2 separate regions of the Homo sapiens genome follow, and region 2 is linked to region 1. Evidence: fine-mapped expression QTL. A gene starts in region 1. The other region holds a variant in brackets. All regions are shown on one strand. Distances are between the middles of the regions.

The links.
Region 2: its variant is fine-mapped to the expression of ATP13A3-DT in tibial nerve (GTEx, PIP above 0.99). The same link has a PIP of 0.9 or more in lymphoblastoid cells.

The regions. Positions count from the first base shown.
Region 1 is chr3:194,479,939-194,495,411 of GRCh38, forward strand. ATP13A3-DT (ATP13A3 divergent transcript) reads left to right here and starts at 7,202. Exons shown (of 2, transcript NR_033929.1): 1 at 7,202-7,234; 2 at 7,518-8,607. ATP13A3 (ATPase 13A3) reads right to left here and starts at 7,064. Exons shown (of 34, transcript NM_001367549.1): 1 at 6,628-7,064; 2 at 5,856-5,897. RefSeq lists silencers at 6,304-6,363, 6,454-6,503, 6,534-7,193 and enhancers at 7,864-8,083, 10,217-10,336, 12,088-12,197, 12,208-12,257, 12,298-12,347.
Region 2 is chr3:194,509,778-194,525,250 of GRCh38, forward strand. No RefSeq gene overlaps it. Among named protein-coding and RNA genes, the nearest start is that of ATP13A3-DT, 30 kb to the left of the region's middle. RefSeq lists an enhancer at 11,003-11,297. The variant G/A (reference allele first, on the strand shown) is at 7,829.

The DNA of each region.
Region 1 (15,473 bases):
TGAGCTTTTGAGGATGTTGCTACTAAAGATACAAAATCATAGATTGTTTTGGACATAAAAAGCCTGAATATAACATTATTGCCTGCTGTTCCAGTTAACAAAAAAACAAAGAGCAATCATCAATCACACCCCACACACACATCTGACTTGTTTTGAATATCTTCAATGTTACTAAGTTAACAAATAATAAGTTACCCTTCACTCAGACTCTTATCCTTACAATTCTCTAAGGTACCCTTTATCACCTCTATCTGGCAAATAAAAAAGCTCTCAGAGGTTCAGTGACTTACTTAACCCAGACTACAAGACTGGTATGTGACAGAGCTGTAATTCAAAATCACTATGGCTCTGAAGCCCACATTTTTATCCAATACACCATGCCCTCTCCCAGGACATAAGACTGTTAAGTTTTTAGCCACCATCATGTTTTTACATACTCATGTTTTCTTACTGTGCTATCCCCAGAGTAATACTTAAGTTTAGATACTTTAAATTTCATGGAATCCATTAATAATTTACATCGCTCTTTTAAAACAATGCAGATCTTGCTAGCAGTAAGGAATAAATTTATTCTTTAAAAAAACAAAACAAAAACACTCAAAGTAGTTGAGTATCCCCTCAGAATGACAGACAGTACCAATAATCTCCTAATATTCTCAACTTTATTACCTAGCCTTTTAATTATACTAGATCTTTTTGTGGCATAACCTTACGGAGATAGCAGATGTTCATAAATACCTAAGTTATTTCTCCATTATTCACACTGTGGAGTCACATCATATATGCACTTAATTAAAACCAATTCAACTACTTACACTCTGGGGGGAAGCAACAGAGAAAAATAATTTGAATAATGATGATAGTATGCCTTCCTTTACATCCCTGTCCCAGAGTGAGCATGAAATGAAGACTATAAATCCGCTATGCTCAGTCAATCTAAGACCCATTCACCTGTCAAAACGGTCTCACACAGCTGGTGAGGATTCCAGCTCACCAAAAAAGGGACCTCTCTAAAACTACAGGAAAAACTGGACACTAGAATTGAAAGACAGAATGTCAGTTTCCAACCAGTTTTCAAACTGGTGCCTTTTTAAAAGACTTTTTCCAAGGGTAATTTTGACTACACAGGATTTTTATCTGAGAATTTAGGCCCAAAGGCCCCATGAGCAGTGATTGCACTTTATTCAGCTCTTTAGATCAATCAGAAAAAAATCAGGACCCAAAACACTTGTCTTTTATATCAAAATAAATAACTAAAATATATTTCATCCTATTTCACAAATGGAAAAAAAAAAAAACAGAGCAACAGGGATGCTATGAAGAAACCACCCTTAGACACATATGTGGGAGCAATTCCATGACTCATTTTAAACAAACTAAAAATAGTTTGTTTCAAGAAGTCTGTCAAGCAAGCAAAGGCAACCCTTAAAAGTTGGCTCTCACTGGAAAAAAAAAATGCAAAAGTTTTGAGATGTGCCATTACTACAGAGTACAAAATTAAAGCAAGGGTGAAAGGAACACCCAAGCTAGAGAAAGGATCTGGGGTTAGACCATAAAGGATCCTTTATGCTGTCACTTACTTCACTTTCCTCTTCTCTAAAAAGGCACTAATCTAAATAATCCATGATCTCTCCGCATTATTTTCCAGTCTCACACCTCTTTATTTCAATGTTCAACTCCTTTGTGAAAAAAAAATAAGAAAAACTCACTGAGCTAGAACCATCTTTCACCTTACCACCCAACATCAGTTACAAGTATTTTTACTTCAAACTTGAGAAAGATTCTGTAGACATCAGCAATTTCCAGACCACATAATTAGGAAATTCTACTTTACATACTTAAGTGACTTTTTCTGGAAATTTAATTTCTTATCTAACTAGTCTCTGAGTGTCAATTGATCATTTAAAACCAAGATCCACAGGGAGTAAGTGTAAGAATCAACAAAAAAGACAAAATTCTGATTAACAGATTAATTTTGCGGTCTTGACGTTTACTATTCGAGTTAATGTTTTACCATCTCAGACTCTAGCAAAGGTTCCAATATGACCCTGTGGGTCTAAGATGTTAACAGATATGGTATTGGCATAGTTCCCTCTAGAGAATCATTTTATGGAAACTTTTCAGCAATCACCATCCTCAAACAACCTTCCTCAGTGTCAGACACTTATTTGGACAGTTCTCTCCTTTATTCCGTTTTTCTCCCTTCTTACTGATTACCATAAAGTCATTTTTTAAACTATCATAACAGTGATCATTTTTTCCAATTACCATTTACTCATGTCATCTCATTTTACCTCTATTTTTAACCTGATTAATACAAATTATTTTTGGTTGTTTTAAGACAAAGTCTTGCTTTGTCACTCAGGCTGGTCTCAAACTCCTGGCCTCAAGCCATCCTCCTGCCTTGGCCTCCCAAAGCACTGGGATTTCAAGCATGAGTCACTGTGCATAACCTACTAACACAAATCGTTTTAACTCCTTTTATAATCACTAGTTATCTAGTGATAACTGATTAACTGTGGACCTTCTTCTACCTTACAAATATCTACTTTTCTCCAGATTAATTTGAGCCCAGAACTTTTTCATTTTTTTAAACCTAAATCTTAATTAAAATTATGTGCCAGAAATCTGAGCCTCTCTTACTTCTCTACTCTCAAAATATGATGTTCAACAAAACTCAAACGAGAACCTAACAATTTCCTTGCTTCTTGCATGCTATTTGAACTTAAGTGGTTAATTAGAACATGGTTTTGGCTGGGCAAGGTGGCTCATGTCTGTAATTCCTACACTTTGGGAGGCTGAGGCAGGAGGATCACTTGAGGCCAGGAGTTCTGAGACAAGCCTGGGCAACAAACCGAGATACTCATCTCTACAAAAAAATTTTAAAGGCCGGGCGTGGTGGCTCACGCCTGTAATCCCAGCAGTCTGGAAGGCCGAGGCAGGCGGATCACAAGGTCAGGAGTTCAAGATCAGACTGGTCAACATGGTGAAACCCAGTCTCTACTAAAGATACAAAAAATTAGCCAGGCATGGTGGTGGGCACCTGTAATCCCAGCTACTCGGAAAGCTGAGGCAGGAGAATCGCTTGAACCCAGGAGGCGGAAGTTGCAGTGAGCGGAGATCGCGCCTCTGCACTCCAGCCAGGATGACAGTACAAGACTCCGTCTCAAAAAAAAAAAAAAAATTTTTTTTTAAATTAGCCAGACATGATGGCACACACCCGTTGTCCCAACTACCCTTGTTGCTGAGGCAGGAAGGTCGCCTGAGCCCAGGAACTCAAGGCTGCAGTGAGCCATGATCGTGCCACTACACTCTAGCCTGAGTGAGAGAGCGAGACTCTTTCTCTGGGGGGAAAAAAAAAGAAAAAAGGACGGGGTGCAGTGATAAATGCCTGTAACCCTAACACTTTGGGAGGCCAAGGCAGGCAGACTGCTTCAGTTCAGGAGTTTGAGACCAGCCTGGGCAACACGGTGAAAACCCACCTCTACAAAAAAAAAAAAAACTAGCTGGGTGTGATGGTGCACACCTGTGGTCCCAGCTACTCTGGAAGCTGAGGTGGGAGGACTGCTTGAGCCCAGAAGGTCAAGGCTGCAGTGAGCCATGACAGAGCCACTGCACTCCAGCCTGGGAGACAGAGCAAGACCCTATCTCAAAAAAACTCAACATGGTTTTGACGACTACAGATTTACTCTCTCCATAGGCCAATTAGCTTCATTTTCACAAAAACTATGTTCCAAAACCAAGGCTAAATCCCATCAGCTACCTCTTGGATCCAGATGAGATATGGCATATTCAGAATACATTCAGAGGTAACACCAAGAAGAAATTTAATTTCTAATTTCTTCTGGCTACTCCAGGCACACTGCCTATCGAGCAGCCCTGTTCTGCAAGAAGCAGTATTAAAAAATGTTTTTAAAACTTTAAAAAATAAGAAATGTGATTCTAAGGAGGGAGAGAGAAGGGAGAAAAGGATGAGTACAACATATCTAAGAGTTAAACTGAGCTATATTTGAATGGATGATAAATGGAATAGGAGTTGGCAGCTTATCACCTATCAAAGAAAACAGTCAAAACAGTTCACAGTTGTGTGCTAAAAGAAGGTGATCTAGTGTGTGACACCTATTAAGATGACATATCTGATTTATCACCAGAATCTGAGGTTCAGAGATGTTATGTTGCCTAGTCACATACAACTAACCTTATAAACCCAGAGACAGAAACCTCTGTGTTAAGCACATTAACACAGAGCTAGGTTTCTGTCTGTCTTCAAAGTCGCTTATACTGTAAGCTCCTTAACTTCTTTAATTTTTTTTTTAACAAAGAAGAATATTGTTACCTGAAAGTGTTGAGGATTAGTTGAGACCATATGTAAAGAAAGGAGCACTTTTCCTGGCACATAATGGTTTCTTTCCTTCTTCCATTCCATATATTGAATCAAACTATGCTTGTATAACGTGGTGGTTTTGTAACTACTGTGAATATGAGGTTTTAGAATATGAATATGCTTTATTCCTAAGATAAATAGTAATCTTAGGACATAGGCACTATATCATATTACTATGGATATACAACCTACTCAATGGTCAAACTCAGTGAGAATAAGCAGTGATGGGGACGCCCTATGGAACTTTATCTTTATTCTGTCTTTTTTCTCAGTCTCAGTGATGTTGGAAATAAGAACTTTATACTTGTGAATGACAACAAAGTGGTTTATAATCTCGAAAATCTTGAAGACAGAAATAGGATTTCAAAATGAGCTCGATAATGTGGTTTATCCAAAGCGGATTCTGTGTGTTGTATATTTGGTGACCTAAACTAACTATGTAAGTATCAACCGCCAAGCTCGGTGGCTAGCGCCTGTAATACCAGCACTTTGGGAGGCCTAGGCAGGAAGATCACCTGAAGTCAGTAGTTCACGACCAGCCTGGCCAACGTGGTGAAACCCTGTCTCTACTAAAAATACAAAAAATTAGCTGGGCGTGGTGGCACACACCTGAAATCCCAGCTACTTAGGAGGCTGCGACAGGAGAATCGCTGAAACCCAGGAGGCAGAAGTTACAGTGAGCCGAGTTCACACCACTGCACTCCAGCCTGGGCAACAGAGCAAGATGCCATCTCAAAAAAAAAAAAAAAAATTTAAAGCAACCAAATAGTGTCACTTTTCCTACCCAATCCCCTGACCAAAGCCAGGCATTGTTGTTCTAACAAGGCTCAAAATCTCAATTATTTCACTCTCTGCCTGATCTAATGGTAGGATAATGCAAATCAAAGATACCAGCAAAAGTTATGTTCTACAACAATCATTAATAATAGGTTTACTACTTCGAACAACTTCCAAGCACTGATTTGCCTTAAAGGGGTTGCAAACCAGGATGAGATGCCCACACACATTGATTTTTGGCAACTGTAGTCTATTAAGCAAAGCAACAAACCTCTAGAGAAAATAATGTCACATATATTCCAGTGAAACAAAATTAATACATGTACCTTGGTAAAGAGGCTGAGCTCTAACCAAAGATAGAGCACTGTTCATTACGTACTCACCCTTCAAAGGAATCAAATCGAAACACTTTCATTTTAACAACGATACTTTTTAAAGGCTTTATTTTGCAATAATCTTTCAAGTCCCTGCATTTCTTAGATTCCTTAAATTCTAACTTCCTGCCTCATAGATCTAAAGTAGCCATGACATACCCAGGTATGTTCTACTCATTTAGTTAGAATCGTATAGAGGAACACAAGTCTGTTTCTAGGTGTACGACTCCACACCCATTCATTTTGCACTAATATAACCACTAAATATAGCTCTAAGACACTGATGATTAAAAGCGGCTAATTATGTGAGTGATTCATACCTCCTATGTCCAAACACCAAGATTCAGGGATGTCTGTCAGATCTATGGGAAGAGGAAACAATAAACACCTGTCACAAAGCTTCTTCCACACCGGGAAGCCCCCAGCTGAGTTCCTGCCAATCCCAACCCGATTCCCTCCCCCTTCATCCCTACCCCTCACCTCCCCAAAAAAGCCAGAGGTCATACTTCCACCAGAACCTGACTCTGTGAAGGGAATGGAGAGACAGAAAGGCCATAGCGAGAGTGGCCACGAGAGCACTGCTAGGGCAAAGGGCCCTGGGTTTTTCTAGTCCTCACTGCCACAGAGTCCGAGTGGGAGGCCTCAGGCAAGTCAGAAGTCACTTTTCCTCCACGGGACTCACTCCTTTTATCTGTGAAATGCGGAGATGGCAAGCAGCTCCATACTCCACGGCTGAGGACGAGCTAGGGTCCCGCACAGACTCATCGAGGGCCCTGCCAGCACCCCTACGCCTCTGCCCACAGGACCTCCACCTCCCACAGGACTTTCCGAAAGCTCTGACTACCAACCACCAAGCGCCCGGCCCCCACGCTCGCCCCCGGCAGGCGGCGCGTCCCCCCCAGGCCTTCGCACCCACCGCGTGGGCTCCTGCCCTGGCCTCACCTGCCCCCGACACTCCCCGTCCCCGCGATGCCCAACTCCGGCCCGAGAAGGCTGGCCGCGACCTCGCCCGGTACCCGCCGCCCCGACACCACCATTCGCCTCCTCGACCTCCCCCGGCGCCGCTGCCCACCCGCCCCTCGCCCCGCTCACCGGGGCCGCTCACTGGCCGCCGCCGCGCCGCCTCCTCCGCGGCCTCCCTCGCGGCCGGACCAGCCCCAGGGACCGCGGGGGACCCGGCCGCCGCTGTCGCCGCCGCCGCCTCGCCTCAGCCCAGCCCCATCGCCCTCGGCCGGCGCCGCGCGCTGCGGCTCAGGGTGAGGGAAGGAGGCGCCGCGGCGGGGCCGGGCCGGCCCTGGGACGTCCGCGCTCTCCTCCTCCTCCGCGCCCGCGGCGGCGGCGTGCAGCCGGCAGGGCGAGAACAAGGGAGGGCGGCGGGAGGTGGGCAGGGGAGGGGGGCGGTCTGCACTCCGAAACGGCCCCCCCGCCGCCAGCGACGTAGAGAACCCCCCTCCCCTCCGCGGCGGCGCCCGATCACGCTGCGGGGAGAGCCGGCAGGCAGGCGGGGGAGCGCGCGCGGGCTCAGGACTCCCGCGCCGGATGTGAGGTCACGTGGTGGCTTCATCCCCGCGCGGAGGGCGGAGGGGCGCGGGCGACGTCAGGAGGCGGGGAAGGGGCGGGGAGGGGCGGGGCGATTTATAGGCCCCGCCCACCCATCGCCTTTGCCACCCTCGAACGGGCAAAAGAAAGAAAGAGGCAGGTAAGGGGAGGCGAGGCCGTCCAAAAACGCTGGGTGTCAGCCCGGGGTGGCTAATGGAGGGCGGCTTTTCTGGTGGGATGAAATGGAACGGCAAATCCCACTTCATCCCCTTTGGGCTATGACAACATCATAGTCCAATCTCCCATTTTATGAACAGGGAAACTGAGGCTCAGTGACTAGACAGACGTTGCCCAGAGTCATGGTCATGGAGGAAGCTTGTGCTAGAATGGTGGAGAGGAAACCAGAGCCCAGCTCCTAATGCAAGGCTCTTTCATTCCTTTAGCCACCCTCGCCCCCGCCAAAACAAACAGACAAAAAACTGTCATTCTCATATGACCACGGACTCTGCGCCCCGGCCGCAGGCGGAGGACAGGGAGGAGCGCACACGAGAAAGCTCCCACGCGCCCGCGCCTCGCCTCCGACGGGAAGGCGCCTCTTCCGACCGTCCTGGATGCAAATTAAATACTTCCCTCCGCAGAAGACTTATCTCGGGGTAGGGCCGCAGCCGGATTTCCAAATCGCGGGTTTGATTTTCGCTGCGTCCTCTCCGCGACGCGCGCAGGGAGCGCGCCCGGCCACCTGCAGCCTCTGGCTGCGGCCATCTTTCCGCCTGGGGCCACCTGGCCTGCGCCCTTTGTGCCCGGCCCGCTCCGTGACTGTTCTTCTTGCCGCTACTTACAGAACTCAGCCGCCTTAGCGTCTTAGAGAAGAGGACGGCATGCATGCGGACCCCGTCCACCACACCTGGAGAGCAGGGAGCCCTTAGTCCCTGGACACTTACCAGGGCCGCCACCCCTGGTCCACGCACGTGATGACATCTCACCAGGGGCAGCACACCGCCCGAGTCCGCGACACTGATAACACCTCCTGCGGGCAGGAGGGCGCCACAGCCACCCCTGGTCCCCTAGATTGTGTGAGGCTAGCATTTCTGCCCGCCTCTTGGCGTGGACAGCACGCTGGACCGAGATGGAACCACAGCTTTCTCTTCCCAATCCCTGGCCTCACCGTTTTGTTTCATACCTCACCGTTTGTTTCAAACCTCGTGGTGTTGAAATGATTAAATGAGATTAAGGGGTGTGTGGTAGTGTTGGGCAAACCACAAGAAAACGGTCTGGGTGGGGTCTGGCCCTAAAATCTTCCTCCCCCACCTCCCAGGCTTCCTTGCCTTGCTGCTTCCTCTCAGCCTTTAAACAGGTTGGCCTCTCCAAGTCCTAAAAACAAAATTATCAAGCCAACCTCCTCCTGAAGTGCTCCCTCCAACTAGCTTCCAAGTGTTTCATGCGGACCTCAAACAATGGTCTTCCCTGGCTGCCTCTGCTTCCTCATTTCTCAACACTTGGCATTCTGGCTTCTCCTCCCCAACTCTAACCCTTCACCTTGCTCAGGCAAGAGCAACTCATGACTTTCATTTTGCCAAACCTTGCAGGCATTCCTCAGGCCTTATCTCTCTGGTTCTTTCTGCTACATTTGACACCTTGGGATGACTCTCACCTTCTGGAATCTCTCTACTACCTTGGTTTCAGAAGAGTGAACCCTCTGGATTATCACATGAAGGTAAGTAAAGCCTCTGCCTCCTTGGTAACATCTACTTGTGAATCTGCACCTTAAATTCAGGATTCCACTCTAAGCCAACAACTTTGCTCACTTCACTCATTCTTCTGGGATTGCCTGCATCCTCATGGATGCAGCTCCCAAATTAGCAATTTCCAACCCAGACCCCTTCCACAAAATTTAGAACCAAATATCCAATTGCCTGCCAGGCAGCTCTAGCTAGATATCACAGACACCCCAAACTGGACATTTCCAAAACTGAACTCATTCTCTGCTTTCATAGCTGCCCCTCCCTCAGCTGTTGGCACCACCATCTCCACAGTCATCAGAATTAGAAAGTTGGGAATGAGTGAGTCATTCTTAATTCAGCCCTCTGCCTTACCCAATCACCAAGTCCTATCTATTTCACCTCCTTAATAAGCCTCAAATTCCTATGGTGGGCTGGGCGCAGTGGCTCATGCCTGTAATCCCAGCACTTTGGGAGGCCGAGGCTGGTGGATCACACGAGGTCAGGAGTTCAAGACCAGCCTGACAACATGGTGAAACCTCATCTCTACTAAAAATACAAAATTAGCTGGACGTGGTGGCACATGCCTGTAATCCCAGCTACTTGGGAGGCTGAGGCAGGAGAATCGCTTGAACCTGGGAGATGGAGGTTGCAGTGGGCTGAGATTGCGCCATTGCACTCCACTCTGGCCAAGAAGAGCAAAACTCCATCTAAAAAAAAAAATTCCTACGGTGGTTCCCACTGGCATCCATCCTTTCCAGCCTGAATTGTTAGACAAATTCAGCCTTCAGAGTGAACTACAATGCACTCCATTTAAAATCCTAAGAGTTTCCCTAGGCTTCTGGCTGCAGTGTATACCTCCAAGCTACCCAGCATGAACCTGTCAACGCGTTCGGGCTTTTAAAAGATCACAAAGAGCCCCAGAATTCGAGGTGCAGCCAAAGTAAGGCAACATACAGCCAGTCAAGGGAAAGCTATAGGAAAAAGAGAAAAGCAGTTGGATATTCCAAAAACTTTTCTGTTACAGATGTTTTGAGAATGGTGAAAAAAGGAATTTGGACACTGGCTTTAGAGGAAGTGCTGAGTCACCAGGAAAGGCTTGAGCATGTTTATGGGTTGAGGGAAAAGAAGGTGCAAGAAAAAAGGAGAAACCCAAGATAGGCGAGAGAAAGGGAGTGGAACAGTCTGGAGAAGTCCTGGAAGACTTACTGGTTCTCAAGTCATGATGATTCTGGGTCCAAGCCCACTGCTTCCCCCCTCTGATCCTACTCACTGTAAGCACCAACCCTGATTGCAGCTGCATGGAGGTAACAGTCATACCAGTAAGGTCTGACGTCACTTCTCAGAAAGGCTATTTTGCATCTTCTTCATCCTCAAAACCCCCATCTTTGCATGCCCTTCCCTCTCACTGTCCCCTTACTTCCTATTTCACTAAGAAAACATACACCATCAAGAGGAAAAATCCTCATCTTCCCACCCGCAAATCTGCGCATCATCCTACATCGGCCCCAGGATCTATTTTCCCACTCCAGAGAGGCAAAGCCTCCTCCTAACAGAGCTAGCTCTCCACAAAATGACCACTGTTAGGCCAACTCCAGGGGCTAGGCCTCCCCAAAATATTACTGTTGCCAAATCCGGAGGACACTTTGCAGGCCTTATCTTTCTAGTTCTCTCAGCAGCATGCATCTCCTATCCTTGAGACACTTTGCTGTTAGTTTTGATAACATACTCTATTTTGGAATTCCTCCTCCCTGTTTCTCTTTGTCTACTCCATCTCAGCCTCCGCAGGTGCTTCCTCTGTCCTTCTCTAAATGTTGCTGTTCCCCAAGGCTCAACCCAGGATCCATTCCTGTGTCTACACAAGGTTTGTTGTGTTTTTGTTTGTTTGTTTGTTTTTAATTTGACATCTCTTGACCTTACAAGAGTTGTGGATGGGCTTCAGAAGGATCTATAAGCTCCTTAAACTTGGATGCAAATACTTTTAAAGGAAGAAGTGGAGCTTTTAGCAGCTTCTCAAAGGTGTCTGGGTCCCCCAAAAAAGATAAGAGGACTGATCCACATGCTCTCCCCTGGTGGCCTCATCTACTATGGCTATAGCTGTCATCTGCATGTACATTAATAACTGTAAACTGAGGCTGGGCATGGTGGCTCACGCCTTTAATCCCAGCAATTTGGGAGGCCGAGGCGGGCGGATCACCTGAGGTTGGGAGTTTGAGATCAGCCTGGCCAACATGGTGAAACCCCATCCACTAAACATACATAAATTAGCCAGACGTGGTGGCGTGCGCCTGTAATCCCAGCTACTTGGGAGGCTGAGGCAGGAGAATCACTTGAACCCAGGAGGCAGAGGCTGCAGTGAGCTGAGATGGCACCATTGTACTCCAGCCTGGATGACAGAGCAAGACTCTATCTCAAAAAGAATGTCAACCATATGCCTGCAGCCCAGGCCACTCCTCAGAGTCCCTTGGCCATTCCTCCCTATCATTTTCACATGGGGTTTCACTGGTGCCAGATAAGTTCACTTATCCCAAACTTAACTCTTGCCTTTCTTCCCCAAATCAGCTCCTCTCTCCTGGGCCTCCTGACCTTAGCAAAGACGCTGTCACCCAAACAACTGCTGAAGCCCAAAACCTGGGAGTCATTCTTTACACCTCCCTCTCCTTCACCACCCCATCCAATCCAACACCAAGTCCATTTCAAATCCTTCCCCATTGCTCCATTTCACTGCCACTAGAATAATGCATGCCCCCTCATCTCTCACCTCGCACGCCCCCTCCATCTCTCACCTGGCATGTCCCCTCCACTCTCACCTGGCATGCCCCCTCATCTCTCACCTGGCATGCCTCCTCATCTCTCACCTGGCATGTCCCCTCCATCTCTCACCTGGCATGCCCCCTCCATCTCTGACCTGGCATGTCCCCTCCATCTCTCACCTGGCATGCCCCCTCATCTCTCACCTGGCATGCCTCCTCATCTCTCACCTGGCATGTCCCCTCCATCTCTCACCTGGCATGCCCCCTCCATCTCTGACCTGGCATGTCCCCTCCATCTCTCACCTGGCATGCCCCCTCATCTCTCACCTGGCATGCCCCCTCATCTCTCACCTGGCATGTCCCCTCATCTCTCACCTGGCATGCCTCCTCCATCTCTCACCTGGCATGCCCCCTCATCTCTCACCTGGCACTAGTGCATTCGCTCCCAGTGGGTTCCTCTGCTTTTGCCCTTGCCCACCTCCAGTGCATTATCACACAGCAGCCAGAGTATTAGTTTATGTGACTTCAAGCAGAGCTGCTGATAAAAGCTTTCACTTGCTTCCCACCTCACTTGGAATACTAGATGAACTTCTTGGGTCCACAAAGTCCAGTGCAGGATGTAACCTGCCCACCACTTCCCCCTCCACTGGCACTCCTCTGCTCTCCCCGTCTTCTCACCGCAGACCCCTTCCCCAAGTTACTCCAGCTACACTAGGCCTTCTTTCAATTCCTCAAACGCACCAACCTCTTTCCTGACTCACGGTCTTTGTACAATCTATTCTTTCCCTTCCCTTTTTTTCTTGCCTGACTAACTTATAAGTTCAACTTTGGGCTTAAATGCATATACAGTTGTCCCTCGATATCTACAGGGAATTGGTTTCAGAACCTCTGTGGATACCAAAATCCAAAAATACTCAAGTTTCTTGGATAAAAGGGTATAGTATTTGCATATAACCTATATACATCCTCCTGTGTACTTTTTTTTTTTTTTTTGAGACAGAGTCTCGTTGGGTCACCCAGGAGTACAATGGCATGATCTTGGCTTAGTGCAACCTCCGCCTCCTGGGTTCAAGCAATTCTCCTGCCTCAGCCTCCCAAGTAGCTGGGATTACAGGCATCCGCCACCAGGCCCAGCTAATTTTTTGTATTTTTAGTAGAGACAGGGTTTCACCATGTTGGCCAGGCTGGTCTTGAACTCCTGACCTCAGGTGATCCACCTGCTTCAGCCTCCAAAAGTGCTGGGATTACAGGCATGAGCCACCACAACCCGTGATCTATACTTTAAATCATCTCTAGATTACTTATAATACGATGTAAATTCTATGCAAACATATTTTTATGTATAGTATTTTTATTGTGTTGTTATTGTATTTATCTCAAGGCTGTGGTTGTATGACACTTATGTAAGATTGAAAAAATAATGGTTGTTTATTTTTGTAAATGTGAGAAGGACTTTTGGGATTATGGGAAACAGGCACATAAAATATCCTTCTCACCCGGGCACAGTGGCAGGTGCCTGTAGTCCCAGCTACTTGGGAGGCTGAGGTGGGAGGATTTCTAGGATTGCCTAAGCGCAGGAGTTTGAGTTTATGGTGAGCTATGATTGTGCCACTGCACTCCAGCCTGGGCAACATAGTGAGATCTCAGCTCTTAAAAAAAAAAAAAAAAATCCCCCATCCCCACCCAAACCATCTCTTTGTGCTGCTACTGGTAAAGAATAAGTCAGTTTGGCTTATCACTGTAGACCCAGCACTAGATGAAGCCTGGCATGTGATAGACACTCAAATGTTTGCACCTGATGGATGACTGAATGAATGAATTTACGATCTCAGATATCATCTCTAAATGCCTTCCCTGACTCCCAGGCTAAGAATCCCTCTTTAGCTGAGCGCACGGCTCACCCCTGTAATCCCAACACTTTGGGAGGCCGAGGCAGGTGGATCACTTGAGGTCAGGAGTTCGAGACCAGCCTGGCCAACATAATGAAACCCCGTCTCTACCAAAAATACAAAAATTAGCCAGGTGTGATGTCAGGCACCTATAATCCCAGCTACTCAGGAGGCTGAGGTGGGAGAATCGCATGAACCCGGAGGTGGAGGTTTGCAGTGAGCTGAGATCACGCCACTGCACTCCAGCCTGGCAAGACTCCATCTCAAAAAACAAAACAAAAAGAATCCCTCTTTAGTGCATATTTGTCTCACTGCATTTACAACCTTGAATAAGCACCTATTTAGTGTTTTTGTTTTCCATGAGTCTACCTTATTCATGTTTTTTTCCTAAGGTTCTGAATACTTTCATATGTTATCTCATTTAATCATCACAACGATGCCAACACTAAAAGTAGTAGTGACTATTCTGTTCATTTTCATAGACGAAGAAACTTTACATATATGATCTCATTAACCTTTATAACAATTCTAGGAAGGAGGTACTATTATTTCTGTTTACAGATTGAGGAAAGCTTATTTCTGCTTACAAATTGAGGAAGATTATTTCTGCTTACAAATTGAGGAAAGCTTAAAAATCCCATTTTACAGAATGGAAAAAGAGGTGTTCAATAACTCACCCGAAAGCACAGCCAGGATTCAAACCCAGACACTTTGCTCCAGGGCCAAACTCTTGACCACTATAACCAAATGAAGCCAGAGTGATTCACCAGAATGAGTTCATCTCGCATCAAAACTCTGGATTATCTGTTTAAGCACCCAGACTTCCACCTCCTCATGAGCCAGGACCTTCCTCAGCCACATCTGGATCCTCAGCCCCTCACAGCACACAGCGGTAGTCAGAAAGTATGCTGAGTAAGTGGAGAACAAGTTAACATTGATTTTCACAACCACGATGTCAGACTAGCAATGGAATTGTTTTGATTCTCCTTTTATAGAGAAGAAAAATGAGATTCACAACTTCACAAGAGGGAGTGTCTTATCTAAGAATCTCTGACTGAGTTCAGCCCTTGTTTGTATTCCCTCTGCTGCCTCCACAAAAGGTTAGAGGTCACATGTTTAGATTATGAAGACCTTTTGCCATTAAAAAATGGCAAAACAAGCAAACAAAACAAACACAGCACTCATTGCCTTTCCTAGAAAAACTGTCCATTAAAAGTACTTTGAGGCTGTGCGCAGTGGCTCATGCCTGTAATTCCAGCACTTTGGGAGGCTGAGGCAGGTGGATCACCTGAGGTTGGGAGTTTGAGACCAGCCTGGCCAACATGGCGAAACCCTGTCTCTACTAAACATACAAAAATTAGCCAGGCATGATGGCAGGCGCCTGTAATCCCAGCTACTTGGGAGACCGAGGCAGGAGAACTGCTTGAACCTGGGAGGTGGAGGCTGCAGTGAGCCGAAATCATGCCACTGCACTCCAGCCTGGGCGACAGAGGGAGACTCCATCTCAAAAAAAGAAAAGAAAGTACTTTGATTATGATTATGATGTTTGCCCAACAAGCTCTATCTCTCTTTCTTTTAGTGCCTCCTAAGCCATTCAGTTCCTATTTAGCTTGACCTATGCAGGCCAGTGTGTGTGTGTGTGTGTACTGGAATGGGAACAGAGAGCAGGACTGTTAAGTCAGATGTCTACAAATCACAGTCCATGGCCATCACTGACTTGTTTCTGTCTCTAAACAAAGCATGTAAAAACTGTTTGCCTCTGCCATGAGGCAAAAGCATGCGCTTGGCATTTTTCTGAGGTCATGATGCCCTAGGATGTGGCAGTTCACGTGCCACTGAATATTGTTTACCAACTAGCTATTCAGGACACGGGGTCCCTCCTGGAGGAGTGCTTACTGCTGGCGTCGGGCCAGTGTGCTGATAACCTAGTTCTCTAAGAGATTGAAAACTCTGACTGTGTGGCCCCTGCCAATTTCATGGTGTAAATGCTCCCACCACAGCCAATTTCAAGCTACCAAGAGTTTCCCTACTGCTTCACG
Region 2 (15,473 bases), 30 kb after region 1:
TTTTTTTTTTTTTTTTTTTTTTGTAGAGATGGGGTTTCACCATATTGCCCAGGCTGGTCTCAAACTCCTGGGCTCAAGCAATCTGCCTGCCTCAGCCTCCCAAAGTGCTGGGATTACAAGCGCAAGCCACGCACCCAGCCTCACTAGTGACTTTTCATTGCAAGTGTGCGTGCACCAGGCACACTCCCACCTCAGGGCCTTTGCACTTGCTGTGCCCTCTGCCTCTACCAGTAGCCCTATGGCTTTTGCTTCCTTACCTTTTTCAGGTCTTTGTTTAAACATCCCCTCCTCACTGAGGCCTACAGTTGAAATCCCTTCCCCTTGGCACGCTTTATCCCCCTGTCCTGATCTGTTGTTTTTTTTTCCATAGCATGAATCACCATCTGCCATATTATAGATGGTAGTTTATTGATTGTCTATCTCCCCCTCCCCACTAGAATGTAATGTCTACAAGGGCATTTTATCCACTGTTCTCCATGTCTAGAACTTTACTGGCATATAGAATATACTTTAAAGATGTTTATCATTGAATGAATGACTCTTGCTCCACTCACAAAGTGTAAATGTGTCTCCCAAGCCTATCCTTACCCTGCTTAACACTAGTCCTGATTATCCCCCATGCCGACAGCTTGCCTGTGTGGACTCCTGCCTGCTCTCTGTGCCAGGATCCCGTGACATGAAACAGAATAAGTGCTTCATAAACGGGAGTGACACTAGGCGTGGTGGCATGCATCTGGAGTCCTAGCTACGCGGGAGGCTGAGGCAGGAGGATTGCCTGAGCCTAGGAGTTGGAGGCTCTAATGCACTTGGATAGCACCTATGAATAGCCAGTGCCCTCCAACCTGGGCAACATAGTGAGCTCTTGTCACCAAAAAAAAAAAAAAAAAAGCTAGAAGAGAATAATTTGAATATTTCTAGCACAAAGAAAAGACAAATATTTAAGATAATGGATAGCCCAGTTACACAGATTTGATCTTTACAAATTATATGAATGTATTAAATTATCATGGCTGGGTGCAGTGGCTCACACTTGTAATCCCAGCACTTTTGGAGGCTGAGGTGGGTGGATCATCTGCGGTCAGGAGTTCCAGACCAGCCTGGCAAACACGGCAAACATGTACTAAAAATACAAAAAATTAGCCAAGTGTGGTGGCAGGCACCTGTAATCCCAGCAACTCAGGAGGCCGAGGCGGGAGAATTGCTTGAACCTGGGAGGCAGAGTGCTTGCAGTGAGCCGAGACCGCACCACTGCTTTGTAGCCTGGGCAACAGAGTGAGATGCCATTTCAATAATAATAATAAACTATCACATGTAACCCCCAAATATGTACATCATTGTGTATCAATAAAAATAAATAAATGTGAATAAATGACTGAGAGTATGAATAATGCCATCCCTCCAGCGCCCTTGCACTGTGGTTCTCCAGCACCTGCTACTTAGGTTTCTTCAGATACCAGCTGCTCTGGGAGCTATACCTTGTTTCAGGATCTCAGTCACTGCCTTCAGCAGCCCACTATCTGATCCAAGCAGCCATGGATTCTCTTTTGTATCCAGTCACTCCTGTACCCTCTTCCCTTTTAGGTTTTGCTACTGTCTTCAAACTTGCTTTGAAGATTTGAGCTCCTGTGTCACCAGGTCACCCTCAGAGGCATCAGGACATGCTCTTCAAGTAAAGTCCAAATGAGGGATTAGACACTCTGGGCTTCATTTCTCAGTGTCCTCTCTCAAGAGCTAGACTATTACTTGCATTTCTCATCTCCTTGAATCATCAGCGCCTGGTGCTATCATTTAAAATAGGGAAAGTTATGAACTGGGTTAAATTTTTTTTTTTTTTTTGAGATAGAATGTCACTTTGTTGCCCAGGCTAAAGTACAGTGGTGCAATCTTGGTTCACTGCAACCTCCACCTCCCGAGTTCAAGCAATTCTCCTGCCTCAGCCTCCCAAGTAGCTGGGATTACAGGTGTTCACCACCATGCCTGGCTAGTTTTTGTGCTTTTAGTAGAGACAGGGTTTCACCATGTTGGCCAGGCTGGTCTCGAACTTATGACCTCAAGTGATCTGCCCGCCTCAGCCTCCCAAAGTGCTGGGATTACAGGCGTGAGCCACCACACCCGGCCTCAAAAAATATTTTTTTAGAAAGAAAAAAGAAAGAAACAAAAACAAATAAAATAGGGAAAGATGATTAGTAAGTCTCTTCCTTTCCAGGGCCTTAGTTTTCCTACCTGTAAAATACAGAGCATGGTATTTTTGGAGTCCATGAATCCACCAAGCACAGTATCATCTTTGCATGGTGCTTTAAAGTATATAAAACATTTTAGACAAACAAGATCTTATTTAACAAAAAAATGCCCAATAAATGTTTGCTAACAGAAATGATAATGCTGATTCTGTGTGAGCTGAAAGAAGCCTGTTGAAGGTGAATGTGTCGTCTATCATTAAGTCTGAGGACCAATTAAAGTTAAAACAAGTATGAGTCACTAAATGTTAGAATTAATTTTGAATCCCTTAGTTTAATTCCTACATGTTGTCAATGCCTGAGGGAAATGGTCTAGCCACAGGTGCCAGCTCATAAGAAACGGGAAGGCCAGGTACGGTGGCTCACACCTGCCATCCCATCATTTTGGGAGGCTGAGGCCAGCAGATCATTTGAGGCCAGGAGTTTGAGACCAGCCTGTGCAATGTAGGGAGATCTCTACAAAAAAGTAATTAGCCAGACATGGTGGTATGCACCTGCAGTCCCCGCTGTTTGAGAGGCTGAGGCAGGAGGATCACATGAGCCTAGAAGTTCGAGGCCGCAGTGAGCTATGAATGCACCATTGCACTCCAGCCTGAGCAATAGAGTGAGACCTTGCCTCAAAAATTAAAAAATAAAATAAATATAAAAATAAAACAAGAGAGAGAGGGCACCGTCTCTGTGGTACTATTTGGCTGTGTTACATAACTGGCATTTTATTTGGAAAAAAAAAATGTCCTCCAAGGGGTTCATTTCCTCAGATCAAATGTCATTCCAGGTGTTGGTATGCATTCGACGCGTGCATTCTTCAGCCCTGGTTATTCTGTTTTATTTTATGTAAAACTCTATTTCAAAATACAGGTCTTCCCAGAAGACTGGGTGCCCATTCTCCTTCAGGCTGTGCTAAATGGAAGGTGCTAAACACCTGCCTGAGGCCACGTCCAGGCCACACACCTGGGCAGGTGATGCTCCACCTCCTACCCCCAAGTGCACCCTCTGGGTAAACACAGGCTCTGCTGGGCCCCAGCCACCACCAAGTGTTCTGGTTTCACTGTTGCTAAGGATAGTGAACTTTTTAAAACAACCTTCCTTTCTTCTCTAATCTGGTAGAAAAACAAAAGCCCAGTCAGGAACCAACCAAGTGGAAGAGAGTGCAGCTGAATAAAATCAACATTGCACTTGGCTTTCTCTGACACCAGTTCCCAGAATCTCTTGAGTGATGGGAGGATCCATGCAGGGGTTGTTTTGGAGAGCCTGGCCAAGGGGTCTCTTGCAGGGCCTGAAGTCCAACATTTAAGGGAGCAGGAAAAAAGAAGAAGGAGGTTTCCTCTTCTCATATTGCTGCCTCTTCCCATCACCTCTCCTTGAACCTCAAGAAAAGGGCTGGGCACAATGGCTCGTGTCTGTAATCCCAGTGTGTTGGGAGGCTGAGGCAGGAGGATCACTTGAGGCCAGGAGTTTGAGACTAGCCTGGGCAACATAGTGAAACCCCTCCATTTCTACTTTAAATTTTTCTTTTACAGGCGGAGTGCGGTGACTCTCGCCTATAATCCCAGAATTTTGAGAGGCCAAGGTGGGCAGCTCACTTGAGCTCAGATGTTCGAGACCAGCCTGGGCAACATGGCAAAACCCCATCTCTACAAAAAATACAAAAATTAGCCAGGCATGGTGGTGTGCACCTGTAGTCCCAGATACCTGGAGGCTGAGGTGGAAGGATCACTTGAGCCTGGGAGGCAGAGGTTGCAGTGAGCCAAGATCACATCACTGCACTCCAGCCTGAGTGACAGTGAGACTCTGTCTCAAAAAAGGAAAAAAGAAAAGAAATTAAAATTAAATAAATTTTAAAAATCTTTTTTTCTTTCTTTCTTTCTTTTTCTTTTTTTCAAAGAAGTCTCCTAAGAGCCAGGCTATTAGCACTATCCTCCCTTTCAAGTGCTATACAGTGATCAGGTGAAACTGGAGAACATCTGAGTTGGGAGAGAATTCTAAGATCTCAAGTGTAAAAGCTTAATTTCACTGACTAAAAACTGAAGTCCAGAAAAGGAAAGAGGTTTTTGGCAAGGGGACACAGCCAACTGGTGGCAGAGCTGGCAATAGAACCCAGGATCCTTTTGACAACCCCCACCCCACATACACACATCCTCCCAAAGTGTGATCTTGCTCCAAAAAGCTAGCTTCTCTCCGAGTTTTCGCGTTTCTATCAGAAGCCCCCTCATCCTTTTCTTTTTCTCCCCCCTTTATGGCTATCTATCTTCTACAGGAAGGACAGAAGCCCTTTTCTTCTCAGTGAATAAGATTGGGAATCTTGGCCGCGCGCAGTGGTTCACACCTGTAATCCCAGCACTTTGGGAGGCCGAGGTGGGCAGATCCCCTGAGGTCAGGAGTTCGAGACCAGCCTGGCCAACATGATGAAACCTCATCTCTACTAAAAATACCAAACCAGCAGGGCATGATGGCGCATGCCTGTAATCCCAGCTACTCAGTAGGCTGAGGCAGGAGAATCGCTTGAACCTGGGAGGCAGAGGCTGCAGTGAGCCGAGATTGTGCCACTGCACTCAAGCCTGGGCAATAAGAGTGAAGCTCCGTCTCAAAAAATAATAATAATAAATAAAAAGATTGGGAATCTTGAGAAACTAAAAGAAAAGGGCAAATACTTAAAGAAAAAAGAAAAGACTGGGAATCTGAGAGTCATTCTTAGGTATTTTTGTTATCCCACGTGTGCAAGTAATGATTCCTATTGAGGCTTGCTTTAAAATATCTTACTCTCTATTCCACCCTTGCCTTCAGTCTGTGCCTGCTGCTGCCCCCTACCTCTGACCTCTCTCCAGGCCACCCGGTAGATAGCTAACATATTCATGATAACTTACAATTGTCATACACATACACGGCATCACTGTGCTGTGTTCTACATGTGTTACTTTATTCCTCTAAAAGACCCCATAAGCTGGGTGCCTTTATTACCCGCATTTTATAGATGAAGAAACTGAGGCTCAGTGCAGTTAAATAATATTTGTAAGATCTCACAGCAAGCAAGGAGCAGAACTGGGATTTTATTTATTTAACTTATTTATTATTATTATTATTATTATTATTATTGAGACAGAGTCTTGCTCTGTCGCCCAGGCTGGAGTGCAGTAATGTGATCTCGGCTCACTGCAGCCTCCACCTCCTGGGTTCAAGCAATTCTCCTGCCTCAGCCTCCCAAGTAGCTGGGATTACAGGCACACACCACCACACCTGGCTAATTTTTGTATTTTTAGTAGAGACAGGGTTTCGCCATGTTGGCCAGGCTGGTCTCAAACTCCTGACCTCAGGTGATCTGCCCGCCTCAGCCTCCCAAAGTGCTGGGATTATAGGGGTGAGCCACCGCGCCTGGCCGGAACTGGGATTTTAGAAGAACCAAGTGGTCTGGTGCCAAACTCCAAACTCCCAGCTGCTATACAATACTGCGTTTCTCTGAAGCACCCATACGACCATGTCACTCCTGTGCTCAAGTCTCTTCAGTGCCTCCCTTCTGACTGTGGTCGTTCAAATTCCTACTTGGGCATTAAAGGCTCTTCAGTGGTTTGTCTCTCGCTCTCCTGCAGGTAAGTTTATGCGCTTTGCTGTGTCTCACGTCCCTCCTCTATTACTTGAGTGTGATAATACCCTCTCATGAGGCTGCCACGAGGATTAAAGGAGGTCACTCAGCACAAAGTGACACAATTGGTGTTAGTGATCATTTAGTTACCTTTGTACTGTTTCTCCCAACTTACTTAGAGGACTCCTCTGACCAGAATGTTGCTGCAAATAAACAGTGCTTGTTGCTAAACTGAATGCGAATGTAAATTTTCCCTTCCTAGAAATGTTCCCCACTCCCATATGCCAACATCTCCAAATCCGTCCAAACCCAACCATCCTCCAATCACTCTACTTCACTGCCCCCACCCCCCCACTAATTGAAACTCCTGAGACACTTACTCTTTTTTTTTTTTTTTTTGAGGCAGAGTCTCACTCTTTCACCTAAGCTGGAGTGCAATGGTGCGTTCTCGGCTCACTGCAACCTCCACCTCCCAGGTTCAAGTGATTCTCCTGCCTCAACCTCCCGAGTAGCTGGGACTAGAGGCTCACACCACCATGCCCAGCTAATTTTTGTATTTTTAGTAGAAATGAGGTTTCATCATGTTGGCCAGGCTGGTTTCGAACTCCTGACCTCAAGTGATCTGTCCACCTCGGTCTCCCAAAGTGCTGAGATTATAGGCGTGATCCACCACGCCTGGCCTCGGGGACGTTTATTCTCATCATTCTTTTTTTTCCACACCACTATTTATTTACTCGTTTGTTAAGCATTTATCAAGTGCTTACTCTAATAATAACAATGCCTGTACAGACAGTCCCTGAGTTAATGGTGACTGACTTAATGATATTTTCAGTTGATGATGGGTTTACAGGGATATAACCCCATCTTACACTTGCTTGGTTATTTTTTTTTTTTTTGTCTTTTTTTTTTCCTTTCTGTGGAGAACGGCGTCTTGCTGTATTGCCCAGGCAGGTCTCGAACTTCTGGGCTCAAGCTATCCTCCCACCTCCTCCTCCCTAATAGTTGGGATTACAGGCATGAGCCACCATGGCCGGTGGACGTAACCCCAACTTAAGTCGAGGAGCATCTGTATTTGACTTGATACTTTACGAAGGGCTCCATACCACAGCTCTGCATCTGTAAATCCTCACAAAAGGCTTGGAAGGGGTTCCCATTTTTAGGCTGCCCTAGTTTTACCAGCTGGTGGTAAACCCTGGTGTCAGCACCAGCATTCCTGGGGATCCAGAGGTGATGCTGACAGGACCCCCGTCTTCAGGGCATGTATTGCTGGGTCTGTCCCGCAGACCCTGGCTGACAGATGAAATGAGTACTCAGACAGAGGTATGCAGTGTAAGAGCAGCTAGGCGACTGCCTGGCTCTAGTGTCCAGAGAGCAGCCCGAGAGCTGGAGCTGCTTGCTTTTATTCAGTGCAGGCACAATGACGAAAACCTGGAGCCAACACAACCTGCAGGTAATTAACATTTATCATTCCCTTTTCAGGCAACATCATGCACGCGGATGATCAACAGTCAGTTCCTGGTCAACATAAGTAAACAAGCCTGTTTAAGATAAATTCCCCCACACTCCCTTGTACCTACTCCTTGCCCTCTGCCCCAGGGTTATAGAACAGCTGCTTTCTGCTATTCTCCCCCCAGGCTCTGCAGAACCTTCTGACCTTTCAGAAGGTTTGCATCCTTTCCCTATAGTTTTTCCACCGCTCTGACCAGTCCCCCACAATATATAGCCTTGTATGCAAAGCCAGGCCTGTCCATGCAGGGTGACCATCCAAGGTAGACAGTGGCAAAATCTGGTGGAGGCATCAGAGATAGTGCCATCAGTTTGCTGGAACAAGCATATCAAGGAGCCTGGCAGATCTACACTTCACCAGACGGTGCCTGTAGCCAACAGGGCAGGCCCTTGCTCCAGGGAAACACTCAGAAATCAAAACTCCTTGCTCTGCTGCCAGGGAACTCTCCAGGAGATCCTCAGTGTCATCAGAAGCTGAAAAAAACAGTGCTGAGAAACGTGGCCTGCC[G/A]TCTTTCCAGCTAAGGGAGATGGCCCATTCGACCCTGGGTTGTCCTCTGCAAACGCGCTGCTGCAGGTTGCATGGCACCATCTCCTGATTGCAATTTGCTTTCCTGAGGGAGTGAACTGACTGAAATTGGATGGTAATAAGTTGCTAGGTTATTTTCCACTTTTTAGTTTATGAGGCTTATTCATTTTGCTTTAACATTAACCACTGCCTTCCTTTTAAGGAGCTGGTGAGGCAGCGCATGGCAACAGGTTCAGGGTGAGGAGTGGCACCACCTCCTTTCAGTGAGGATTTGGGAAGGGTGAAAAGCACCCTAATCTTCTCAGCCGCATGTGAACAAACCACCTGTCAAGGTGGGTCCTTCCTATAGGGAGGTTGATGTCAGCCCTTCAGGGAGGTCTCAGTTTTCTTCCTCCACTTCCTAATCCCTTCATTATAATTCCTTCCACAACAGAATAAGTTTCTTGAGCAATGCAGCAATATCCAGCAATTTTAGATAGACATTTACCTTTTGACCTAGAAATCTCACTTCTACGAATCCATCCTAAAGACACACTTTCAGCTGGATGTGGTCGCTCATGCCTGCGATCCTAACACTCTGGGAGGCTAAAGTGGAAGAATCTCTTGGGCTCAGGAGCTCAAGACCAGCCTGGGCAACATAGGAAGACCCTATCTCTAAAAAAAATAAAAATAAAAACGGCACACAGTCAAAAATTCAAAAATTAATATACATAAGGCTATTTATTACAGAAACATTGGTAGTAGCAAAAGACTGGAAATAACTCAATGCCCATCAATAGGGAACGGAGTAAATAAACTAAGATACCTACACATAATGGAGTGCCATGCAGCTTTGAAAGGAAATGAGGCATATTTCTATGTTATATGTTGTGATCACCAGAATATAACCTAATGAGTAAAAAGCCAGGTGAAGAAAATTCTGATAATATGCTATCATTGGAGAGGGGAATATGAATATACCATACATCACATAGGAGGAGAGAGGAAATAAAGTGAGAGGATTGGGATAGAAGCTAGACTTTTCTAAATATATCTTGTTTTATAGATTTATGTTGGAAGTTTGTGGATATAGTACTTTAGAAAAGTATAAAACCAAATTAGACTTGACAAAATGAAACAAGTCAATCTGTTGAGTTGATGGTGTAACTACACAGTGAGAAACTATTGCAAATGACCTTAACACTCAGGAATTCCACTGTATATTCCTAATGGGAGATCCCCTAATGACCAAACTTAAACCCAGTCCAACCAAACCAAAAAACCTTGTAAAATATCTGAAACCATTTTTAGTAATGAAATGAGAAATGTGGTCGTGTTGGTGATATGGTTTGGCTGTGTCCCCACCCCGACATCATCTTGAATTGTAACTCCCACAATTCCCACATGTCATGAGAGGAACCCAGTGGGAGGTGATTGAATTATGGGTGTGGGTCTTTCCTGCGCTGTTCCCATGATAGTGAATGACAAGATCTGATGATTTTAAAAACGGTTTCCCCGCACAACCTCCCTCTCTTGCCTGCCACCATCTATGTAAGATGTGACTTGTTCCTCCTTGCCTTCCGCTGTGATCGTGAGGCCTCCCCAGCCATGTGGAACTGTAAGTCCATTAAACCTCTTTTTCTTCCCAGTCTCGGGTATGTCTTCATCAGCAGCATGAAAATAAACTCATACAGTAAATTGGTACCAATAAAGTGGGGTGCTGCTGAAAAGATACCCAAAAATGTGGAAGCGACTTTGGAACTGGGTTATCAGGCAGAGGCTGGAACAGTTTGGAGGGCTCAGAAGAAGACAGGAAAATGTGGGAAAGTTTGGAACTTCCTAGAGACTTGTTGAATGGCTTTGACAAAAATGCTGATAGTGATATGAACAATAAGGTCCAGGCTGAGGTGGTCTCAGATGGAGATGAGGAACTTGTTGGGAACTGGAACAAAGGTGACCCTTGTTATGTTTTAGCAAAGAGACTGGTGGCATTTTGCTCCTGCCTTAGAGATTTGCAGAACTTTGAACTTGAGAGAGATGATTTAGAGTATCTGGTGGAAGAAATGTCTAAGCAACAAAGTATTCAAGAGGTGACTTGGGCGTTCTTAAACACATTCAGTTTTATAAGGGAAGCAGAGCATAAAAGTTCAGAAACTTGCAGCCTGACAATGTAATAGAAAAGAAAATTCTATTTTCTGAGGAGAAATTCAAGCTGGCTGCAGAAATTTGCATAAGAAATGGGGACCCAAATATTAATCTCCAAGACAATGGGGAAAATGTCTCCAGGGCATTTCAGAGGTCTTCATGGCAGCCCCTCCCATCACGGGACCAGAGGCCTAGGAGGAAAAAAATGGTTTCTTGGGCCAGGCCCAGGGTCTCCGTGCTGTGTGCAGCCTAGGGACTTGGTGCCCTGCATCCCAGCTACTCCAGCCATGATTAAAAGGGCCCAAGGTACAGCTCGGGCCGTGGCTGCAGAGGGTGCAAGCCTCAAGCCTTGGAAGCTTCTATGTGGAATTCAACCTGTGGGTGCACAGAAGTCAAGAACTGAGGCTTGGGAACCTCTGCCTAGATTTCAGAGGATGTATGGAAACGCCTGGATATCCAGGAAGTTTGCTGCAGGGACAGGGCCCTCATGGAGAACCTCTGCTGGGACAGTGTGGAAAGGAAATGTGGAGTTGGAGTCCCCACACAGAGTCCCAACTGGGGCACCACCTAGTGGAGCTGTGAGAAGAGGGCCACTGTCCTCCAGACCCCAGAATGGTAGATCCACCGACAGCTTGCACATGTGCCTGGAAAATCGGCAGACACTCAACACCAGCCCATGAAAGCAGCCAGAAGGGAGGGTGTACCCTGCAAAGCCACAGGGGCTGAGCTGCCCAAGACCATGGGAACCCACTTCTTGCATCAGCGTGACCCGGATGCGAGACATGGAGTCAAAGGAGATCATTTTGGAGATTTAAGACTTAACTGCCCTGCTGGATTTCTGATTTGTATGGGGACCAGAGCGCCTTTGTTTTGGCCAATTTCTCCCATTTGGAATGGCTGTATTTACCCGATACCTGTACCCCCATTGTATCTGGGAAGTAACTAACTTGCTTTTGATCTTACAAGCTCCTAGGCGAAAGGAATGTGCCTTGTCTCAGATGAGACTTTGGACTGTGGACTTTTGAGTTAATGCTGAAATGAGTTAAGACTTTGGGAGACTGTTGGGAAGGCATGACTGGTTTTGAAACGTGAGAACATGAGATTTGGGAGGGGCCAGAGGCGGGATGATATGGTTTGGCTGTGTCCCCACCGAAATCTCATTTTGAATTGTAACTCCCACAACTCCTGTGTGTCATTGGAGGAACCCAGTGGGAGGTGATCGAATTATGGGGGCAGGTCTTTCCTGTGCGGTTCTCATGATGGTAAATGAGTCTCACAAGAGCTGATCGTTTTAAAAGTGGGAGTTTCCCTGTACAAGCTGTCTCTCTTGCCTGCTGCCATTCATGTAAGATGTGACTTACTCCTCCTTGCCTTCCACAATGATTGTGAGGCCGTCCCAGCCATGTGGGACTGTAAGTTCATTAAACCTTTTTTTCTTTCCAGTCTTGCATATGTCTTTATCAGCAGCATGAAAATGGACTAATACAGTTGGTAAGACTGTTTTGCATGTATTATAGGATAAAGCAATGAGTAATTATGTTGTTTTGAAAAGTGGGATGTTTTACATCCCAGGTATGGATATAAGATCAATAAAGTTAAGTAGAAACACTTTAGTCTTACCTAAATTTGAAATAGAACTATTAGTAAGAATCCATAAAGTATTTGCTTGTAAAAAATTCTTTCTAGAAACCATCATCAATTCAAAAGCAAGCATTTCTTGCACACAGAATATGATCTCTAAATGCCATTTACTAAAAGAAAGCAGGGCTCCTTAGAAAAATGGCTGATTCCAGATCTGGGCTCCTGGGAAAGAAATGTACAAGATGAGCCTGGAACATCATATTATACACCTGATAATCAAGCATTTATCAAGAACAATAGGGTGATTTCACAAGGCAAATACCAGATATTATGTGCCTCCTGATGAAAAACATTAGTCATGAAGTAGTCTTGCCAAAATCCCTAACCTAAATCTGATCAACTACTCTAAATCCAACTTCTAGTTTACAGGAAATGTCAAGGACAGAGAACATGTTAAATCATACTGCTGGTTGCAATCACCAAAATTATTGCAGTGGCTCATGCCTATAATCCCAGCACTTTGGGAGGCTAAGGAGGGCAGATTGCTTGAGCCCAGGAGTCTGAAACCAGTCTGAAATATAGTGAGACCCCCATTTCTACAAAAAATTGAAAAATTAACCAGGCATGGTAACATGCACCTATGGTCTCAGCTACTCTGCAGCCTGAGGCAGGAGGATCGCTTGATACCAGGAGTTTGAGGGTCCCTTGAGCCATGATTGCACCACTGCATTCCAGCCTGTGTGACAGAACGATACCCTGTTTAAAAAAAAGAAAATATCACAAAGACTTAGTTGCCTATAGTCCTAGCTACTCAGGAGGATGAGGCAGGAGCATGAGGCTGGAGGATGGCTTGAGCCCAGGAGTTCCAGTCCAGACTGGGCAACATAGTAACCCCCTCCCTTAAAAAAAAAACAAAAACAAAAACAAAAAAACAGACTCAGTCAACTTGAAGAGGCCCCCACTAACCAAAGAATAAGATAATCTGAGCATCAATAAGAATTATAACTGTGATGAATTGAAGCTCATCAAATGTTTAAAACCATGAATTCATGCTTTTTAAAAATTAAATCTATTGGTCACTTTTGGTGGGTGCTAGGGATCCATTTGTTATTTTGAAAATTGGCAAATAAAGAGAGAGAAGCATTTATATTACCTTTCCAGTGACAAATATAGCTTATGTTAACTGCATAGACGATCAGGGAAACCTTTTTTGGATGTATTACAGCTATTAAACAGAGAAAGACTAGAAGGATTACAATATCACCATTTTGCCATCTTTAGTAAATTAACAGGCCTGGACTTTGATCATCAATGACGGTCAAAAGACAAATACATGAGTGCCTCCCGATGAGAAACAGTCATGAAGTAGTCTTGCCAAAAATCACTAACCTGTCTGGTCACTACTCTAAATCCAACTACTAGTTTACAGGAAATGCCAAGGACAGGGAACGTGTTAAATGATACTGCTGAATGCAGTCGCCAAAACTCAGATGGTGAGAAATTCCATGAGATAAATGACCCAGCTTCTTCAACAAATACATTACAAGCAGGAGGAACTTATCAAGTAAAAGGGATCCAAGAGGCATACTGAAGTCTATGGGTGAAAATGATGCCATGATATGATTTGCTTCAGAATAATCCAGGAAGGGATTAGTCATAAAATAAGATTAGCCATGAATTCTTTTTTTTTTTTTTTTTTTTTTTTGAGATGGAATCTCGCTCTGTCACCCAGGCTGGGGTGCAGTGGTGCGATCTCGGCTCACTGCAACCTCTGCCTCCCGGGCTCAAGCAATTCTCCTGCCTCACCCTCCCAAGTAGCTGGGACTACAGGCGTGTGCTACCACACCTGGCTAATTTTTTGTTTTTAGTAGAGACGGGGTTTCACCATGTTGGCCAAGCTGGTCTCGAACTCCTGACCTCAGGTGATCTGCCCACCTTGGCCTCCCAAAGTGCAGGGATTACAGGTGTGAGCCACTGCGCCTGGCCGAATTCTTAATTATTGAACCTAGGTGATAGAATCGTGGAAGTTTATGATACCATTCTGTCTCCTTTTATGTTAGAAATTTTCCATAGTGAAATAAATAAATAAATAAATAAACAAAAAGGAAACTAAAGACTGAAGCCACAGAAAAGCTAAACAAACAAAATAAAGACTTTCTCTCTCTTTTTTTTTGGACACAGGGTCTTGCTGTGGTGCCCAGACTACCTGGGCTGCAGTGCAACGGTGCCATCTCAGCTTACTGCAGCCTCAACCTCCCAGGCTCAAGAGATCTTCCCAACTCCTGAATAGCTGGGACTACAGGTTCGCGCTACCATGCCCAGCTAAGTTTTCCATTTTTTTGTAGAGACAGGGTCTCGCCATGTTGCCCGGTCTAGTCTCAAACTCCTGGACTCAAGTGATTCCCCTGCCTAGGCCACCCAAAGTGCTGGGATGGATTACAGGTGTGAGCCGCCATGCCTGGCCAGAAGGTGAATTTTGAAGTCAGGTCGACTCGGCTTCAGTTCTGGCTTAGCCACTCCATAACTGTGTGACAAGAGACAAGTTCTAGCTCTGAAACCCAATTTTCTCAGGAAAATGGTGACAGTACACACCACCGTTCCGTTGTATGAATTAAAGGTAACAGTTGGGCAATGCTTGGCAGAGCTCCTCGCACATAGTAACCACCTTTACTTATTGCTGGAGGGAAGGTTGTACACCCTTGGGCCTTTTCTCTTTTTGAAATAGCTGGTATGGAACTCAGGTGACAAGACTAGTGGAGGCAGGAAGAGGGACCCAGGAATTCTATCTTCCTATGGCTAAAAGGGGAAAAAGAAGCTTCCCCGCCTGGAATACTTCCTGAATCTTGCCCCTCCTCCCCATTTTTCAGGGCTCTTTTCTAGTTCTGCCTCCAGGCAAAATTAGTACCTCCTCTTTTTGCCTCAGCTTTTCCACAAGTCTATTTGAACACATCCTTTGACCCCTTTTATTGGTGTGATTTGAACCAGGCACAGTGGCTCAGGCCTGTAATCCCAGCACTTTGGGAGGCCAAGGCGGGAGGATCACTCGAGTCCAGGAGTTGGCGACCAGTCTGGGCGACATAGCAAGACCCTGCCTCTGTTTTAAAAACTTTTTTTTTTTTTGAGACAGAGTCTTGCTCTGTCACCCAGGCTGGAGTGACGTGGCGCAAACTCGGCTCACTGCAAGCTCCACCTCCTGGGTTCAAGCGATTCTCCTATCTCAGCCTCCCGAGTATCTGGAATTACAGGTGCATGCGACCATGCCCGGCTGATTTTTGTATTTTTAGTAGAGACGGGGTTTCACCACGTTGGCCAGGCTGGTCTCAAACTCCTGACCTCAGGTGATCTGCCAGCCTTGGCCTCCCAAAGCGCTGGGATTACAGGCATGAGCCACCGCACCCAGCCTTGAAAAAACAATTTTTTTAAGTAATTAAATATTAGTGTGATTTTTTTTCTGTTCTTCCTCCACTGTTCCCCAAGCTATAAACTTCCCTACAGGGCAAGAGTCTTCAAGATCTTTCTTTCTACCCAGGTGCCCAGAACAGTGTCTGGCACATTGTAGGCGCTCAAAAAAATGCTTACTGCCTCGGAAACCTGACCAGAAAAGGCCAACTGTATGTGGGGTGGGGAAGGGAATGAGAAGGGTTAACCTTTCTCCTCCACCTTCAGCTCTGTGTCAGATGATATACAAGTGGAGACTGAATCCCGTAGATTTATAGTGTGTTTTATGATGATATAAACAGAGCTTTTTTGTTATTATTAATCATCCCATTTATGCATTTCAAAAATCCACAAAAATTCATCATTAAAATTTGTTTCATACCTTCTCATCCTTTCTCTCAATAACGTAGCAGTGTTAGAATTTTGTCTCAATTCGTCATGGCCTTCAGGTAGCACTTGTCTGCTGGACACAGAGGGACAGGAA